Homo sapiens: one gene and its partner. The protein of the gene in region 1 interacts with the protein of each later gene in a biochemical or structural test. Each region holds a gene or a part of one and is shown in the gene's direction. Other genes may lie near its edges.

The links.
Region 2: the proteins of WWTR1 (region 1) and DVL3 interact in a test that uses a peptide from one of them, tested with the Homo sapiens proteins (one large-scale study listed by IntAct).

What each region holds. Positions count from the first base shown.
Region 1 is NC_000003.12:149,651,425-149,655,076, reverse strand, and holds part of WWTR1 (WW domain-containing transcription regulator protein 1), read left to right. Parts: intron 1-3,103; exon of another isoform or gene 3,104-3,652. UniProt on the Homo sapiens protein: Transcriptional coactivator which acts as a downstream regulatory target in the Hippo signaling pathway that plays a pivotal role in organ size control and tumor suppression by restricting proliferation and promoting apoptosis.
Region 2 is NC_000003.12:184,165,335-184,168,986, forward strand, and holds part of DVL3 (segment polarity protein dishevelled homolog DVL-3), read left to right. Parts: intron 1-87; coding exon 88-157; intron 158-791; coding exon 792-931; intron 932-1,111; coding exon 1,112-1,188; intron 1,189-1,271; coding exon 1,272-1,339; intron 1,340-1,491; coding exon 1,492-1,641; intron 1,642-2,245; coding exon 2,246-2,377; intron 2,378-2,563; coding exon 2,564-2,731; intron 2,732-3,652. UniProt on the Homo sapiens protein: Involved in the signal transduction pathway mediated by multiple Wnt genes.

The sequences.
Region 1 (3,652 bases):
TAGGCTCACTGCAAGCTCCGCCTACCGGGTTCACGCCATTCTCCTGCCTCAGCCTCCCGAGTAGCTGGGACTACAGGCACCCGCCACCAAGCCCGGCTACTTTTTTGTATTTTTTTTAGTAGAGACGGGGTTTCAACATGTTAGCCAGGATGGTCTCTATCTCCTGACCTCGTGATCTGCCCGCCTCGGCCTCCCAAAGTGCTGGAATTACAGGTGTGAGCCACCACGCCTGGCCCCAGCCCTACATGATTTCTAAACTGTGTTTATGAATATATACACACATACGTATGGTATATGATCAGTATAACTGTGATTATTAAAAATATGAAATAGGAGCTAGGCTTGCCTAATATCTGAGGAAAACTAGACGAAAAAGACCCTGAAACAAAAGCAAAACAAAAAAATTCCTTTATACATTGTGTTTTGAATGATTGGAGTAGCTCAGAACTGCCTGTGAACAAGGGCAAAAGTGGAAGTTAGCCTTGGATTTAGAGAAAGTTGCTGTGATCTCTCTGCCCATCCCCCCAACCACAACCACTCTCCAATCCAAAGCAGAGTGCATCTTCATTTCACTTTGGGTAGTCAATGAAAATGACAGCTGAAAAAAATGTGTAAGTAGTAGGCTGGCCTGCTCTGATGCTATCCCTGGAAGTATTTTGGCCAAGTGACTAAGAGAGGTTAAGAATTTGTCAGTGACTATTGTCTTTAAGGATAAGCAATCTGCCAAGAGTTCTCTGAATTTCTTGTAGAGTTTTGTTTAAAGTTGGAATTAGGTAAATGTCATACACTTTGTTACACAGCCTCAAAAGGCAGTGTATTTCAGTGGATTAAGTAGAAGCTTGAAAAATGATGGTGACTCACTTGGAGTTACTTTTCATTATGTCTGTTTATTACTTTACTTGCCATCTATGAAATAGGGCTGAGGCTAGCAGATACATTTTTTTTTTTAATTTTTTTATTTTTGGCTGGGGTAGAGATGGGGTTTCACTATGTTGCCTAGGCTAGTCTCAAACTCCTGTACTCAAGTGATTCTCCTGCCTTGGCCTCCCAAAGTGCTTGGATTACAGGCATGAGCTACCATGCCCAGCCAGAAGAAGAATCTTTTTCTTGACTCTGTTGGGAGTTGAGAGCTTTATAAGTTGGAAATCAAAGGATTTTAGAATGACAAGGGTCAATTTTGTTTAGTTTAGTTTTTGACTAGAAAATTGAGGCCACGGAAGGGTGATGATAGGAATTTGGGAAAGTCATGTGGTTATTTAATGGTGGACCCTGGACTGGACCTCTAATCTGTTGCTGTCTACTTAGGCAACAGTTTTCCTTTTTCCCCACCGACACCTTTCCCCCATGTCACTTCCTTAGCTAAACAATGAACTTAATGGGAAACAGAGCCTGGACATCTAAGAAGCTTTAAAAAAGCCTTTTGTCATTTTCTCAGGTAAGATTATTCCTAGGTATATGATGTAATCACTTTCTGCAACCTCCTGAAGGCACCTTTCCTGAGCATTCACAGCTTTCCTGTGGTGTTCAGGTGTCCTGTGGTATTCAGATATTCCTTTAGAGTAACAATGACTAGGGCATGGTGGTGCCCACCTGCAGCCACTACCACCCCCACCCCATCTCTAAATAAAAAGTTTTTAAAAATTAGAGTAACAGTGAAGCAGATTGAATGTTAAAACACCTAGCCTCTGAAAACCACTGTGTTCATTCATTATTCCTGCTGTCCTCTCAATCTCATGAATCAGGCTGGGGTGTTGGGCAACCTGGCACACTGACTGAATACTGATCACATTAAATTTTTAAAAGGTCTCTGATTATAAATAGAATACATGCTTTCTATACATAAACCAGAAAATGGGGAATTATAAAGAAGAAAGTTATCTAGCTTCAGTAGAATTTCCCATCTTTACTCTTTCGCAAACATTCTTGTAAAAATCTTTCATTTGAGTAACGTGATTTTATAAGAAAAAAGATTTTATCCTCCTCTTAAATACAATTCAGACTATAACATTTGGCTGCCACGTCTCATTTTTAGTGACAATTTTAGTGTTTTGCCTTTTCTCAAATGTGTGACAGAAAATTATTTTTGTCCAAGTGATCCATGCACTTGGTAACAAATCCAATATACAGGAGGACATTTGTTGAAAAACAATGGTTTCCTTCACCTCCTCAAGGCTCACAGAGGGCAACTTTTAATTTTTTTCAACTGTACCCATATTTAATTCTTAGATTGTTACCTTCTTAAGCTTAAGTAATGTGCTTTTACCACCATGTTTTGATTTATCAACTTTTAGCACCTGATATGAAAGTGAGAATGTAGCTCTTTAAGCTAGTTTTCTTTTTTCTCTCCCAGGTTTGATGTTTATAATATTTTAAATTTGTCTGTTAGGTCACCTTTTTTAAATAATCATCTTTTTTTTTTTTTTTTTTTTTTTTTTTTTTTTTTTTTTTTTTTTTTTGAGATGGGGTCTGTCTCTGTCACCCAGGCTAGAGTGCAGTGGGAATCATAGCTCACTGAAGCCTCAAATTCCTGGGCTCAAGTGATCCTCCCACCTCAGCTTCCTGAGTAACTACGACTATAGGTTTGCACCACCATATTTGGCTAATTTATTTAACTTTTTTGTAGAGACAGGGTTTCCTATGCTGCCCAGGCTGGTCTCAAACTCCTGGCCTCAAGCAATCCTCCCACCGGCTTCCTAAAGCACTAGGATTACAGGTGTGAGCCACCACACCTGGCTTTTTCAACTTTGGATAGTATTTCTTGATTCCTTATGCTGTATGTCAGTAATGTTTGGATTGCTACCAGTTCTACTGTTCACTTTTTGACAATGTTGCTTTCCACATTGCCAAAGCCCTGAACCCATAACCTGTATTTGTGCTTTGCCCCAAAGTTGACCATCTTATTCGTATATGATTCTTAAAGTTGAAAATCCATAAGGCCGGGCGCAGTGGCTCATGCCTGTAATCCCAGCACTTTGGGAGGCCGAGGCGGGCGGATCACGAGGTCAGGAGATGGAGATCATCCTGGCTAACACCGTGAAACCCCGTCTCTACTAAAAAATACAAAAAAAAAAAAAAAAAAAAAAATTAGCCGGGCGTGGCAGCGGGCGCCTGTAGTCCTACTCAGGAGGCTGAGGCAGGAGAATGGTGTGAACCCCGGAGGCGGAGCTTGCAGTGAGCCGAGATCGCGCCACTGCACTCCAGCCTGGGCAACAGAGCCAGACTCCATCTCAAAAAAAAAAAAAAAAAAGAAAATCCATAGGCAACATTTACATGACTACAATTCTGTGAAATGATTCATTGCCTTGTGTGTCAGGATTGGATTTTAGACTTGCACTGTGGGTCTGGTTTTAGGATTCCTGGGCCAATCAAAGGATGAGATATCTAGCCCCAAAGTCAAATGGGATTTTTTGTTTTCTCACTCTTCATCAGTTGTTTAAATTTGTGTTACCTTTTAGTTTTTTCATATTTGGACCATGACTTTCTTAAATTTTTTCCCTAGTATTTCTGATTGCCTTTTAATGTGTTCATGCATTATTTGCCATTATTATGATCTCAAAAGTTTTCTAGGCTCTCAATCTTGTCTAACCTATCGAGTCTTCTTTGTCTAAGCTGTATGCCGAGATTCCTTTCTCGTTCTGTGCCGTTCTGAACT
Region 2 (3,652 bases), about 35 Mb from region 1:
GCACCGGGGACTCACCTTGAGGAGGAGTCAGGTGGGAGTGAATTCCTGCCACCTCCACCTGCTGCTCAGGGCCTCTGTCTATTCCAGTCCTCGTCCTTCAGCAGCATCACGGACTCCACCATGTCACTCAACATCATCACGGTCACTCTCAACATGGGTGAGTCTGAGGAAACAGCACTCTCAAGCACCTGCTATATGCCAGACACTGGGCAGACTTGAGTTCAGAGAGCGTAGAATATGTTCCCTGCCCTCAAGGAGCTCTCTTTCGTAAACATCAGCTGATACATAAACTGATCATTTTAGTATCTCACCATCAGGGCTATGACAGAGATAAGCACAGAGAGCTGTGGAAGCAGAAAATGGTATCAGGGAAGGCTTCCTGGAGGAAGTGATTTCTGAGTGCCCACTCCTTCACATCTCTCAGCCATTGCATCCTTGCTCTCCGATTTCTGCCCTAGGTACTCTCTTTATGAGACAGCTGGATATAGTAAAAGGAGCCCAACTATGGGATTTAAATCTGAGTTTGATTCCTGGCTCTGCCACTTACTGGCTTAGAAAAGTCATCTTCTAAGTTCACTGAACCTCAGTTGCCTGCTCTGTAAAATGGGACTGAGTCCCTACCTTATAGCCAGCAAGGGTTCCATGGAAGCATGTTTGAGCATGCTGAGTGCAGTGCCTGATTCAGGATCAGCAAATGTCAGTTCAGTTCCTGTCCCTTTCCATTTTCTAATGGGCTGGGAATGCGGGTAGGAACCTTGCTCCCCCTTAAGGTCTTAAATTACTCTCTATAGAAAAATATAACTTCTTGGGCATCTCCATTGTGGGCCAAAGCAACGAGCGTGGTGACGGCGGCATCTACATTGGCTCTATCATGAAGGGTGGGGCCGTGGCTGCTGATGGACGCATCGAGCCAGGAGATATGTTGTTACAGGTATCAGTGCCCATCCTAGGCGGTGGTGTGGATAGAGGGCAGGGAGGTGTCCTACCATCTGTACCCTGCTCCTTCAGAGGCCCCTTCTTGGTTGGGGGAAGACTCCCTGACCTACCAAGTTGAGTTCCCTTTTCATCCTCCCCAGCACAGCTGTTTATCCCACTCCTGGTCCTTTCCCAGGTAAACGAGATCAACTTTGAGAACATGAGTAATGACGATGCAGTCCGGGTACTGCGGGAGATTGTGCACAAACCGGGGTATGGATGGAATGGGGCACTGGGCAAGGGGCTTGGTCTGGCCTATACGCATCCTGCCTTCACTAGGACACCCTTGTTTTCAGGCCCATCACCCTGACTGTAGCCAAGTGCTGGGACCCAAGTCCACGTGGTTGCTTCACATTGCCCAGGAGTAAGTGGATGGGAGACTCAGTCCTAAAGCTGGTGCTTACATACATGAGCACTGTCTCTCCTTTCTTCTCTCACCCAGAACCCCCATATCTATCCTGTTGGGCCCAGCAGTGGGTGGGGTGGGTAGCCCATGACTCCTCATCCTCCCTGCAGGCGAGCCCATCCGGCCCATTGACCCTGCGGCCTGGGTCTCCCACACTGCAGCCATGACCGGCACCTTCCCTGCATACGGCATGAGCCCCTCCCTGAGCACCATCACCTCCACCAGCTCCTCCATCACCAGTTCCATCCCTGACACAGAGCGTGAGTGTCCCACCCTGTCTCCTGGGCCCAGCAGACAGGGCCAGGTGGGGGGACTGATGAGGGTCCATGTGGAGACTCTTGCTTGAGCATCAGAGAGGGCTGGAGATGGGGCTCGGCTCATTCCAGCAACCCCACACTGCAACTCCCCCACAGCGGGCACTCCAACCCTCACTAAACAGTGTTTGCTTCTGAACTTGTATGAGCACCCAGGGCGCCTCAGTTTCCTCTTACAAAATGGGACTCACGATATAAACTTTACCAGGTTCCTGTGGGTTTAATGAGAGGATATAAGTGAAGCACCATTGCGATGTGTGGTGTAAAGTAAGCATTCAGTAAACGGCAGCCATTTCGATTATCATCACATGCACATCGTACACTGGCCAAGCACCTGCATTTACATTATTTAATCCTTTATTCAAATAGCCTTGTAAAGTAGATATTAAAATCCCCATTTTTTACAGAAGGGGAAACTGAGTGTCCAAGAAATCAGTAATTTTCCCAGCATTGATCCCATAATTACTAGATGGTAGAGCTAGAATGCAAACTCTTGTTTACCTAACTCCAAAGCCCCTTTCTGCCTCACCATTCTGCCTCCCACCCCCAGGCCTAGACGACTTCCACTTGTCCATCCACAGTGACATGGCTGCCATCGTAAAAGCCATGGCCTCCCCTGAATCAGGGTTGGAGGTCCGTGACCGCATGTGGCTCAAGATTACCATCCCTAATGCTTTCATCGGTGAGAGAGCCCCATGGTGGGATGCAGGGTGGGTGGGGAGTGATGGGGCAGGGCAGGCCGGAGGGCCCAGGACTTGCCTTGGACCCTTCCTTTGATCTGGAGCCAGCCCCAGCCTCATAGCTTCTGTGAGGCCAGATGAGTCCAAGTCAGATGGGCCTCCCCATCAACTGGCAGCCTTGTCCCCAGGCTCAGATGTGGTGGACTGGCTGTACCACAATGTGGAAGGCTTCACGGACCGGAGGGAGGCCCGCAAGTATGCCAGCAACCTGCTGAAAGCTGGCTTCATCCGCCATACCGTCAACAAGATCACCTTCTCCGAGCAGTGCTACTACATCTTCGGTGACCTCTGCGGCAGTATGTGCCTCCCTCATCTTCTTGCCCTGTCTCCTGGCTGGGAGTGGGGAGGTAGCCAGGGAAGTGGCAGCAGACTCTGGGGAACCCAAACTGGGGGACAGCAGAGCCAGGGGCCCAATTCAAGGCCTGAGAGTTCTATGGTGGAAGAAGAGTCCAGTTTAGCCTCTTCACCTGGCCCACATCTCCCTCTTGGGCCTGGCATTTTCTAAGTGCCTGCTCTGCCTGGTACCATGTTGGTTGTTCCTAAAGCATCATCTTACTCAATATTCACAACCTCCCAGAGGCCCAGCTCAGGAGGATACTGCCAGAATAGGCCTTTTCCTTCTCACTCGTCAAGGTCTCAGCTAGGGTGTTGTAGGCTTAAAGGGAAGAACTGGAGGCCTAGGTAGCCCCGAGGAGCACACAGTCATTCCCTCAAAACAAACAGCCTGGAGGCTCACGTCATCACCAGCTCTGGGCAACAGCTGACAGACCACTGCTTTCCTCCACCACCACTCCCCATGCTGGCTGCTGGCCTCTTGACAGGTTGATGGCTTGGCTGCAGGCTCCACAGGCAGCCTCAGAGCCCTGTCTCCTGACTTCTCTCTTGGAAGGCTGGGGCTGGCTCTTCTTAGGGCTGGGAGGAATGTCTCATCTTAATAGGGCCGGTGGCCTCAAGGGCAGTTGTAGCTCTCTTGGAGCTCTGGGACCTGGTACCGATAGTGTGTGAGCAGAGGGTGTCCCAGGCAGGTATTCAGTCCTGGTGGCCCCTTATATTCTCTTCAATGTAGTTCCAACATTGGTGGGAGTAGCCTTGCCATTAAGGAATGTATAATTTCCCCGGGGGCGCCAGGATCGTGAGATGAGTAATGTTGGTGGAGTGAGACAGTGCTATGAAGAGCTAGGCCTGGCTGGGAACGGGGTGGAGAGCAGTGGGGGAGG